Linked DNA regions of Homo sapiens. The protein of the gene in region 1 interacts with the protein of each later gene in a pairwise test. Each region holds a gene or a part of one and is shown in the gene's direction. Other genes may lie near its edges.

The links.
Region 2: the proteins of KLRC4-KLRK1 (region 1) and ULBP2 interact in binary tests that used the Homo sapiens proteins (3 or more experiments, as listed by UniProt).

Annotation. Positions count from the first base shown.
Region 1 is NC_000012.12:10,400,042-10,407,339, reverse strand, and holds part of KLRC4-KLRK1 (NKG2-D type II integral membrane protein), read left to right. Parts: intron 1-7,298.
Region 2 is NC_000006.12:149,944,923-149,949,942, forward strand, and holds the end of ULBP2 (UL16-binding protein 2 preproprotein), read left to right. Parts: intron 1-386; coding exon 387-650; intron 651-1,449; coding exon 1,450-1,731; intron 1,732-2,397; coding exon 2,398-2,507; 3' UTR 2,508-2,529; exon of another isoform or gene 2,530-2,534; intron 2,535-3,800; coding exon of another isoform or gene 3,801-3,805; 3' UTR 3,806-4,313; downstream 4,314-5,020. UniProt on the Homo sapiens protein: Binds and activates the KLRK1/NKG2D receptor, mediating natural killer cell cytotoxicity.

The DNA of each region.
Region 1 (7,298 bases):
TGATACAGGGCAGATCATGAAATAGAAGTTTCCAGCCCCAGCAGTCCTGCTCCTGTGTATGCCTTCCTCACTTTTCCTGCCTCCTCTCCAAACCTTTGTATTGATGTTTAATGTGATAAATAAGCTTTGCCTGTTCCAGAATTTATGTCAAGGGAATCATACAATGTGTATTTTCATGTGTGTCTTCTTTTACTCCTATATGATATTTGTGCAATAATGCAGTTAGCTGTTGTTTGTTGCTTTTCATTGCTGCATGATGTGCATAGAACATTTACAATCTGTTCAGTCCTGTGTCTCTGGATGGGGAAGTGAGTCTCGTGCCCTCAGGAACAAAGAGGAACCTGGATGGGCACGTGTAGTCATGCGGTTCCTTTGCTGATCCCTCTCACCGCACCTACCCTGATGTCTTTTGGTTTGGGAGGAGAAGCACTTCCTCTAGCTCCTAACTGGTAGCAGGCCTCCTGGTAGGTCATCCTTGCCAGTGGTACCAGGCTTGCCTAATGTTGCTGGCAGGACTCCCTTTCAATACAGAGTGGGAATGGGCTTAGCTGACCCACCTCCTGTTACCAGATTTGGTTCTGAGAAACAGAGGACTAGATCACTTTCTTCTGCTGAGTGGGGGACTGAAGATGCCCGGACACTCTGTTGATCCCTGATTCTGGGGTCCCAAACTATTTTGCCTTCCTCTTTCCACCTTTCAGAGTTTTCCTGTGTGTCTTTCATTACTTGCAGAGTTTAGAGTTGTATTTATTAGGGAGTAGCAGAGAAAAAGGAGTCCATGTACCTGGTCAAGACCATTGTTATTCCACCAAAACCAAATCAGATAAAAGTGAGGGCTTATCTAGTTAGAGAGTGGTGTGGTGCCCAGAAAAGCCAATTTTTGGCTGCTGTGTCATTTATTTCCTCAATGGCAACCTTTCAATTTCCTTCTAAACTTCAAGGAGGAAAAGTTCCACTATGAGACACATAGTGGAAAAATACATTTATTTAATCAGAATATCTGGAGAAATACATGCACAGTATCAGGAAATTTATTTCAGTTCTTACTGTGTCTGTCTTACCAACACAAGCAACTGTTAAATTACATGAATCACAATTTTGCTTGTTAAAATAAGAAGAATGAATGTACTAAGTATAAAAATTGAAGAGTTCATTTTAAGTCAAAATTACAAAAATTTGTAATAGCTTTTTACACTATAAAAGTTGTTTTCAAGTTTACTATTTTGTTTAAGGTATTTATTTTGTTTTGAAAATTAAGCATCCTTTGAAAGAATGTATTACCTGCACTTTTAAAAATTAATAAAAGTTTAGAATTCAAAGAAAGCACCTAAAAATTAGTAAAATCTTTTATAGTTATTATTTAAATGAAAATTTTTTATTTTTCGTTAGAAATTTCTGGGCTCCCTGTCAGTTCTCTCATGGGTTGGCATCTCTCGTAGTAGCAGTGATCATCCATGGGTGTCAATAAATGGCTCAACGTTCAAATTGAAGTAAGTTTTTTGAATGATGCTATATAGTAGAAGAATATAAAAGGACAGGTTCAGAATAACATTATGAATAAATTTAAGTGCAATTATAGCCATAAATAAAGATGTTGAAAGTTAGTGAAATGTTGATATAAATGTTAAGGAATGATCCACAATTACATTTTCTGTGGTTTTAGTTACCCAGGCTCAACCACGGCCAAAAATATTAAAAGGAAAACTCTAGGAAGAGAAAATCCATGAGTTTTAAATTGTTCACTCTTCTGAGTAGTGTGATCAAATCCTTTATATAGTGTATGGCTCCATCTCACCTGGGACATGAATCATTGCTTCGTCCAGGATACCTGCACAGCCTAAGTTCCCTGTCCATTAGTCACTCAGCTGTCGCAGTTATGAGATTGACTAAGGTGGTATGGTACCGCTTGTGTTCAAGTCACTCTTAGTTTACTTAATAAGGGCCCCAAAATGCAAGAGTATTTATGCTGGCATATTGTTATAATTGTTCTTTTTCATTATTATTAGTTTGTTTTAATCTCTTACCGTGCCTAATTTATAAATTAAACTTCATCAAAGGTATGTATGTATAGATAAAACACAGTATATATACAGTTCAGTACTATCTATGATTTCAGACATCCACTGGGGGTCTTAGAACATATCCACTGTGCAGATGAAAGGACTACTTCATTCAGTTTTCATATTATGATATGCAGTTTTCCCAGCATTATTTTTGAAGAGACTATCTTTTTTTTCCAATGTATGTTCCTGGCACCTTTGTCAAAAGTGAGTTGTCTGTAAACAAATGGATTTGTTTCTGGATTCATTGGTCTGTATGTCTGTTTTAATATGAGCACCATGCTGTTTTGGTTTCTGTAGCTTTGTAGTATATTCAGGTAATGTGATGCCTCCAGCTTTGATATTTTGCTCAGAATTGCTTTGGCTATACTGGATGTTTTGTGGTTCCATATAAATTTGAGGATTGCTTTTGCTATTTCTGTGAAGAATGTCACTGGCATTTTGATACAGATTGCATTGAATCTGGACTAGCTAAGGTTTTATTTTGAATGTTGAATAGAAGGCACAGAAAGGTTATATGTATATCATATGTATCAGTTCCTATTTTAGGTAAAAAGATTGCAACATTTCATCCATATTTACAAAGTGTGTTCGTTTTTATTATACCTTTCTCATATTGAAGCAGCTTTATCATATTCCTGTTTTTCTAATAGATTTTGTTATCAATTGTAACATTTTTATTATTTTGGCATCAGTTGGAATGATACATGTTTTCTCTGCATAATCTTAATAAGTAAACTATTTCAATTCTCTCAAATGTTAAACCAGTCTGAAATAAAACCATACTGGTCATTCTGTATTGCCTGTTTAAATTTATTAATGCACAGGAGATTATACTGTGTTTTTATTTATAGCTATGTACATGAAAGCCTTTTCTCTTAAGGGTATATTGGGAAGCATTTCTCTTTTTCTATAACCTAGAAGACTTTGTGTAAGGGTACTGTTTTAAAATGTAATTATTCATTAGTGATGCCATCTGAGTGTGTAGAATGTTTTTGTAGGAAAGTTTATGTAGGAAAGTCAATTTCTTTAGCACATACAGACATTTCATCCATATTTACAAAGTTTATATTTATAGAGGTTACTCAGATTTCTGTTTGTTGTATTGCAATTTGGTAATTTGCATATTCAAGAATTTTCTATCTCATATAGATATAAAAGTATTCATAATATGGTTTCATTATCTGTTTAATATCTGTAAAAACCATAATGGTTTTCCCTTATTTAATCTAGAAAATTATTTGAGCCTTCTCAAATTCTTTAAGTCTTTTATCAATTTTATTAAGTCCTTTCAATGAAAATATCTTCAGCCTCATTGATCTTCTCTACTGTAATTTTGCTCTTTGTCATGATTTTTTACTATTTATTGTTTTCTTCCTACCACTTTACTTCTATTTAATTTCAGTTAATTTCATATTTCTGTTTTTATTCAGACAATTCAGTATCTGCAATTTTGTTGCAATATATGAATTTAAGGCAATCCATTTTTCCCAAGAAAATATTTTGCTCTATTTTCCTTTTAATTGATGTAAAAATTGTGAACATTTATTGTGATAATTTATTTGGCCCTTAGGTTATTTAGAATTATATTACTGAATATAAAACCATATAAAGTTCCTAAAGTTTTGATTATTGACTTCTGTGTTAGTAAACTGTAGTTAGAACATTTTCTGTGAGGCTAGAAATGTTCTTCATCTCTGTGTAAATATAGCTAGTGTGACTAATAAACTTATGTTTAATGTTATTTACTTCTAATTAATTAATATTAAACTTGAATTGGTGCATTTTAACTGTCCACTGGCCAACTTTGGCTAATGCTACTGTACTTATAGCAAACTTCTAAATTTTATATTAAAATGCATAGGTTTATGAAAATACAGTGTAGCTTAAAAATATTAGTATTCCGAATTAGTATACAGTTTATATGTGTGTGTATACACAGGTGTGTTGGCTAATTGTCTAGTTTAAATCTCTGTATAGAGTCAGTGATGTATCTGTTTGTGTGATGAGATGTGAAAGAGAAGTGACTAAATCCCTAAATTTATTAATTACTCATTTATTTCTTTCAACTTTATATTAAATGTGTATTATTAGGTACATACAAATTATTTTAAAATTACTAATGGTATAGATAATAAATATATCACTATGAATATGCTTCTTCATTTTTAATAACAACTTCTGTTTTATATTATTACAGTATATTAAAGTGGTTTTCTACCAGTTTGTGTTGCATGGTATATTTTTTCCATTTTTCATCTTCATATTTTTTATGTTTATGTTAAAGGAGTATTTTTATGAGTATCTCATAAAGACAGCAAACTACTATTTTTAAATACAAGCACTTTGTAACAAATCAAAATCATTCCATATGTATTTGTTAAATTTTAAAATAATTATTTATATTTTCAATTGTATGTATAAACGTGTAAATATAATATGTTTATTGACTGTAATATTATATTATTTCATTTCAGTTAAACACTTCCAATTCTTGACCTCTCTTTTTCTTAACTTTTATATTAAGCTCTGGAGTACCTATGCAGGTTTGCTATATAGTTAAACTCGTGTCACGGGTTTGTTGAACAGACTATTTTGTCATCCAGGTATGAATCCTAGTACCCATTAATTACTTTTCCTGATCCCTTTCTTCCCCCACCCTCTACCCTCAGGTAGGCCACAGTGTCTGTTATTTACCTCTATGTGCCCATGTGTTCTCATCATTTAGCTCCACTTATAAGTGAGAACATGCAGTATTTGGTTTTCTGTTTCTGTGTTAATTGGCTTAGAATAATGGCCTTCCACTGCATCCATGTTGCTGCAAAGGACATAATCTTGTTCTTTTTTTATGACTGCCTAGTATTTCATGGTGTGTATGTACCACATTGTCTTCATCCAGCCTATCCTTGATGGGCATTTAGGGAGATTCCATGTCTTTGCTATTATGAAGAATGCTGTGATGAACACGCAAGTGCATGTGTCTTTTGGGGGATATACCCAGTAGTAAGATTGGTGGATCAAATGGTAGTTCTAAGTTCGCTGAGAAATCTCTGGACTGCCTTCCTCAGTGGCTGGACTAATTTACATTCATACCTTCAGTGTGTAAGTGTTCCCTTTTCTCCAAAGCCTTGCCAACATCAGTTGTCTTTGACATTTTAGTAATAGTCCTTCTGACTGGTGTTAGATGGAATCTCATTTCAGCTTTGATTTGCATTTCTCTGATAATTATGTTTCATATTTTTTTCATGTGTTTTTTGGCCGCTTGTATGTCTTCTTTTGAGAATTGTCTGTTATGTCTTTTGCCTATTTTAATGGGATTATTTATTATTTGATTATTTAATTGTTCCTCATAGATTCTGGATATTGGACCTTTGTCAAGTGCATAGTTTGCAAATATTTTTCCCATTCTGTAGGTTGTCTGTTTATAGGAGCTTAAAGTTTCTTTTGCTGTGCACAAGTTGAGCTTATTTTGTATGTGGTATGAGGTATAGATCAAAATATTTTGTGTGTGCATATTGATAGCCAAGTGTTTAAACATTTGTTAAAAAGATTATACTTTCTCCACTGAATGCCTTTACATCTTTCTTGAACTATTCTACATTCCATATATTTGTGGATACATTTTTGCACTTTGTAGTCTATTTGATTAATCTAGGTATCTATTTATATACTGGTTCCACATCTTGTGAAAATTGAGAGAAAGCTACAGAGACTTCCCATGGTCCTCACTCATGCACTACTTCTCCCATGATCAATATCCCCCATCAGCATGGTATATTTGTTACAATTGAAACATCATTATTATTGAAAGACCATAGCTTATGTTAAGTTTCACTCAGTGTTTTACACTTTATGGGTCTGGCCAAATATATAATGATAATGACATGTCTTTATCATCATAGATCATACAGAATAATTGCATTGCCCTGAAAATCTTCTGTGCTCTGCCCATTCATCCTTTCCTCCTTCAAACACATGGCAAGCATCGATTTTTGTACTGTCTCCATAGTTGTTTACTTTTCCAGAATGTCATATAGTTGAACTCATACAGTATGTTACATCTGAGCCATTACATCTTAACCATATCATATATCTCAACCATTTTTAAGTGAACAGGTCAGTAGTGTTAACTATATTCACATTTTACAACAGATTTCTAGAATTTGTTCATTTTGCAAAACTGAAACTCTATACACATTGGACAACTCCCCTTTTTGCCCCTAGCAATCAGCATTCTACTTTCTGTTTCTATGAGTTTGAATACTTTAGATATCTCATATAAATAAAGCAGGCAGCATTTTTTTTGTGTGACTGGCTTATTTAACTTAGCATAATGTCCTTAAGATTTATCCATGTTGCAGCATGCAACAAGACTTCCTTTTTTAAAATAAAGTATATTATCCTTTTTAAAAATGTTTAAACAACTTTATTGAAGTATGATTGACATACAAAAAGCTGTACATATTTAATGCATACAACTTGATAAGATTAGAGATAAGTGTATAACCATGAAACCACCACAATCTGTGTCATAAACATATCTGTAATCTCCAGAAGTTTCCTTCCACCTTCTTTATTATTATTTTTTGTGATACAAACACTTAAGATCTACGCTCTTAGCCAAATCTTTAGTATACAACATTATTAACTACAGGTTCTGTGTAGTAAAACAGATATCTAGACCTTGTTCATCTCGTATAACTGAAAGTTTGTACCCTTTGACTAATACTCTCCTGTTTTTCCCTCTCCCAGCCCCTGACAACCACCCTTCTACTCCCTGCTTCTATGAATTTACTATTATTTTACTCAGCATAATGTCCTTCAGGTTTATCCATGTTGTTGCAATAGCTTTTTCTTCTTTTTAATGGCAGAATTGTATTCCATTTTATACACATGCCACATTTTCTTTATCCACCAATTCATCAATGGGCTTGTATGTTGCTTCTATGTTTTAACTGTTGCAATGAACATGGGAGTGCCGATACCTGTTCAAGTTCCTGATCTCAACTCCTTTGGCTCTACAGAAGTAAGATTGTTGGTTCATATGTCAACTCAATTTTAAATTTTTTGAGGAACCTCCATAATGTTTTCCATAGTGACTGTACCATTTTACATTTTCATTAACAGTGCACAAGGGCCCAAATTTCTTCACAACCTAAGCAATAATTGTTATTTTCTGCTTTTTTCATAGCGGCCATGCTAATGGGTATGAAGTGATATTTAACAGTGGTTTTGATT
Region 2 (5,020 bases), on another chromosome or scaffold:
CCACACCCTCTCCCACCTCCCGCAGTCCACGTGGGCTACTGCTGAAGATCCTCTGCCATCCAGGCCCTTCCTCCTCTCTTGCTAGAGAGGCCTGGCACCTTTCTAGCAAGGTCACGTGTTGACTGATGTGGGCAGAGGGGCAGTGGGACATGTCTGGGGACATGTGGTTTCTCAGCAGACAGAGACTTCCTCCTCCTCCTCCTCCTTGTCCTCATGCAAGGGGCGAGCACTCGCCTTAAACTTGTAGACACCACAGTTCTGGAGGGGGCACTCCTTCCTGGGCCAGCCCAGCCTGCCAGAGGCATCCTCTTATTGACACAGCGTGGAGGGGGGCTAACTAGGGGTCTTTTCCTCCCCACCCACCCCTCACCTGCCTTTCTCCACAGACCCTCACTCTCTTTGCTATGACATCACCGTCATCCCTAAGTTCAGACCTGGACCACGGTGGTGTGCGGTTCAAGGCCAGGTGGATGAAAAGACTTTTCTTCACTATGACTGTGGCAACAAGACAGTCACACCTGTCAGTCCCCTGGGGAAGAAACTAAATGTCACAACGGCCTGGAAAGCACAGAACCCAGTACTGAGAGAGGTGGTGGACATACTTACAGAGCAACTGCGTGACATTCAGCTGGAGAATTACACACCCAAGGGTAAGTTTCAGATGGCCCAGGACAGCAGGGAACAGATACAGTGGTAGGTTAGAGGCATTTATAGTTTTCATGTAAAAATACAAAAGGGTCCTGGGCACGGTGGCTCACGCCTGTAGTCCCAGCACTTTGTGAGGTAGAGGTGGGCCGATCACAAGGTCAGGAATTCGAGACCAGCCTGACCAACATGGTGAAACACTGTCTCTACCAAAAATGCAAAAATTAGCCAGGCATGGTGGCGCATGCCTGTAATCCCAGCAACTTGGGAGGCTGAGGCAGGAGGATCCCTTGAACCCGGCAGGCAGACGCTGCAGTGAGCCGAGGTGGTGCCACTGCACTCCAGCCTGGGCAACAGAGTGAGACTTTGTCTCAAAAAAAAAAAAAAAAAAAAAGCCAGGTGCAGTGGCTCAAGCCTGTAATCCCAGCATTTTGGGAGGCTGAGGCAGGCGGATCACGAGGTTAAGAGATCGAGACCATCCTGGTTAACACAGTGAAACCCTGTCTGTACTAAAAATACAAAAAATTAGCCGGGTATGGTGGCGGGCGCCTGTAGTCCCAGCTACTTAGGAGGCTGAGTGAGCCGAGATCGCGCCACTGCACTCCATCCAGCCTGGGTGACAGAGCGAGACCCTTTCTCAAAAAAAAAAAAAAAATACAAATGGGAAGGTCATCATACCCCTCAAGAGTCTAGAGGCAAGGCCAAGATGTAGCAGAGAGAGTAAGGCCAGCAAATTGTAAGGGGAACAGGATGGGGGTGCAAAATTTGTCAAGATCAGAGCTGATCTCTCTCTGATGGGGGCAGAACCCCTCACCCTGCAGGCAAGGATGTCTTGTGAGCAGAAAGCTGAAGGACACAGCAGTGGATCTTGGCAGTTCAGTTTCGATGGGCAGATCTTCCTCCTCTTTGACTCAGAGAAGAGAATGTGGACAACGGTTCATCCTGGAGCCAGAAAGATGAAAGAAAAGTGGGAGAATGACAAGGTTGTGGCCATGTCCTTCCATTACTTCTCAATGGGAGACTGTATAGGATGGCTTGAGGACTTCTTGATGGGCATGGACAGCACCCTGGAGCCAAGTGCAGGAGGTAACAGGAGAAAAAGAAACGGGGATCTCAAATGTGATCAGAAATGGTGACCTCAAGAAGTTAGTTCTTGAGTTCAGCTTCAATCATCCCAGTATACACATTCACGTTAAAATGACCTCCTCGTGGGGCGCTCCTCCTGGGGTTACTGGCATGCCTGTGCTCTCCCACCGTCCTCTTCCTTCTCCCTCCTGACTCCTATTCCTCACTGCACTTGCTCCTGCTCCCCGCCCTGTGGATTTCTCACCAGCCTTGAAACTGCAGGTGTCACTGTTTTCAGACCTTTTTCCTTAGTGTTTCCTCTTTTGAGAATCACTTTTCCTTTCCTTTCCCTGGTCTGGTTCTGGAAATCCATCAAAACCACTTCCAACGCCAGCCCAGAGATCCTCCCCTCCCCAACTCTGGGGCATCACCTCCTCTTCCCCCACAGCAGGAGGGTGGGGTGTGTTGTCACCTTGCTTCCCTCAGCAGCTGTGTGAGCTCCCTGAGGACAAGACTCACCCCGTCTCCCTTCCTAAGCCAGGACCTGTCATACTGGCTGCCCCACACCAGGGGGGAGAGGACAAAACTTTTGCCTTCCAGGATGACCTAGGGTGGCAGGAACTGAGGAGGTGTCTCCTCAGATTTGGGGCCTGGACAAGGGTTGTCACTTTTGTGTTTCCATTTCAGCACCACTCGCCATGTCCTCAGGCACAACCCAACTCAGGGCCACAGCCACCACCCTCATCCTTTGCTGCCTCCTCATCATCCTCCCCTGCTTCATCCTCCCTGGCATCTGAGGAGAGTCCTTTAGAGTGACAGGTACTGTGGGCAGAATTGGAAGTGGAGCAAGGAGCAGGTGGGTGAGGAGGCAGGATGGGGAAAGAGAATTCCCGGAGTCCCGCCCCTCCCCGTGGCTGGGACCTTCTCATCCTAACATGAGACAGGTGAATGAGACCTTGTGTTGCCTGTTGGCAATGTTGGCAATGACCTGGGCAGCTCAGCCCTGAGTTCTGATGGATTCTCACCTTCAGAGTCCAGAGGGAAAGGGAGGGGCCCATACCAAGGCTCAGGGTCTGTTGAGCTTGAGAAGGTTTAGCAAGTTCAGGCCTGATTCAGAGCAGGTTCCTATTCAGGAAGGGTGTGTGGCCTGCAGGCAGCAGGAATTCAGACATGGGCAGTCCTCTTAATTGGGTTAGGTGCATCATGGTAGCTTTACATGAGGTGTGACAGGGGAAGGGGGATTCCATCTCTGAGGCTAAGAGAGATCTGGGTGTAATCCCAGGAGGAGGGGGCTGGGAGAACCTTGGTACACCTAATTGAAAAGGAGGGAGTGCAGGGCTGCCTTCCCACAGAAAGTGGCTTGGGTTCCAGGAATTAAGGTGGAAGGTGAAGAGTAGAGGCTGCTCAAGAGAAGGATTTTTAAAAAGTCAGTCCCATGGACATGTGCAGCTCGAGTCTGGGCCCTGAGGCAGCTCCCCTGCCATCATCCTCCTGCACACCCCAGATCCTGAGCCCACTGATGGCCCTGCCTGGAGCAGAGTGGACTCAGAGGAAGGGGGGTCTGAGCTGCTGCTGGGGTTCCACAGGCACCACTGGGCTGGACAAGGAATTGATAAGGTGGAACAGGGACAGTCACCTTCAGAGCAATGGGTGCTGCTCCCAGTGTGAGGAGAGGCTCAAGAAGAAGGGGAAAGAAGGATGTTTGCCTGCAGGCCCACCAAAGGCCAAGGGCACAGGAATATGGAGCCCTCTTTTTGGAAGTCTGCCCCACCCCTTGCCTGTTTTAGGCCTTCACATCAGATCATAGAGAGGGCCTTGAGTGAGGGCGCGGACCCATCACTACCAGCTTCAGACCTGCAGGCCCCTCCACTCCATCCCCTGGTCAGGTGCAGGGCCTGGGCTGACTCTGTGATGTGACAGAGGAGGAAAGAGGTAGGTCCAAGCTGCAGTCGCCAGGGTTGAGGCTCAAGGGAAAAATAGGTCCCTTAGTGCAGGGGGCTCTGAGACATAGAGTGACTAGGGAAAGATTACCCTGGAAAAGTGATCCGGGTTCTCTGCCCCTTAAACCAACATTTGTGTCCTTTCTGAAGGTTAAAGCTGATACCAAAAGGCTCCTGTGAGCACGGTCTTGATCAAACTCGCCCTTCTGTCTGGCCAGCTGCCCACGACCTACGGTGTATGTCCAGTGGCCTCCAGCAGATCATGATGACATCATGGACCCAATAGCTCATTCACTGCCTTGATTCCTTTTGCCAACAATTTTACCAGCAGTTATACCTAACATATTATGCAATTTTCTCTTGGTGCTACCTGATGGAATTCCTGCACTTAAAGTTCTGGCTGACTAAACAAGATATATCATTTTCTTTCTTCTCTTTTTGTTTGGAAAATCAAGTACTTCTTTGAATGATGATCTCTTTCTTGCAAATGATATTGTCAGTAAAATAATCACGTTAGACTTCAGACCTCTGGGGATTCTTTCCGTGTCCTGAAAGAGAATTTTTAAATTATTTAATAAGAAAAAATTTATATTAATGATTGTTTCCTTTAGTAATTTATTGTTCTGTACTGATATTTAAATAAAGAGTTCTATTTCCCAAAAACCTACGGTGTTTAGAATTTTGTTGTATTACTCAGTAGGGAATTAATGTTATTTCATTTTTCCTCCATGATATGGAGTAATAAATGAGTGATTCTACCAGATTTTGTGTGGAAAAAGAGAATCTACAAAACATGGCTGAGAAAAATCAGAGACAACACAAATACATAGAAAAATATTTCATGCTCATGGGTTGGAGAATCAATATAGCTAAAATGGTCATACTTCCAAAAGCGATTTATAGATGCAACACTTTCTCTATCAACACCAATGTCATTTTTCACAAAATTAGAAAAATCTAATCTAAAAGGTATTTGGAATTAAAAAAGAGCCCAAATAGCCAAAACAATCATAAGCAAAAAGAACAACGCCAGAGGCATCACATTGCCTGACTTCAAACTATAATATAAGGCTACGGTGATCGAAACAGAATGGTACTGGTACCAAAATAGACACTTAGATCAGTGGAACAGAATAGAGAGCTCAGAAAGAAACCTTCACACCTTCTAACCTTCAACAAAATCAACAAAAATAAGCAATGGGAAAGAGTCCCAATTCAACAAATGGTGCTGGGATAACTGGCTAGCCATGTGCAGAAGAATGAAACTGAACCTCTACATTTCACCATATATGTAAAATAACTCGACATGAATTAAAGATTTAAATGTAAGTCCTAAAACTATAAAAATCCTGGAAGATAACCTAGGAAAT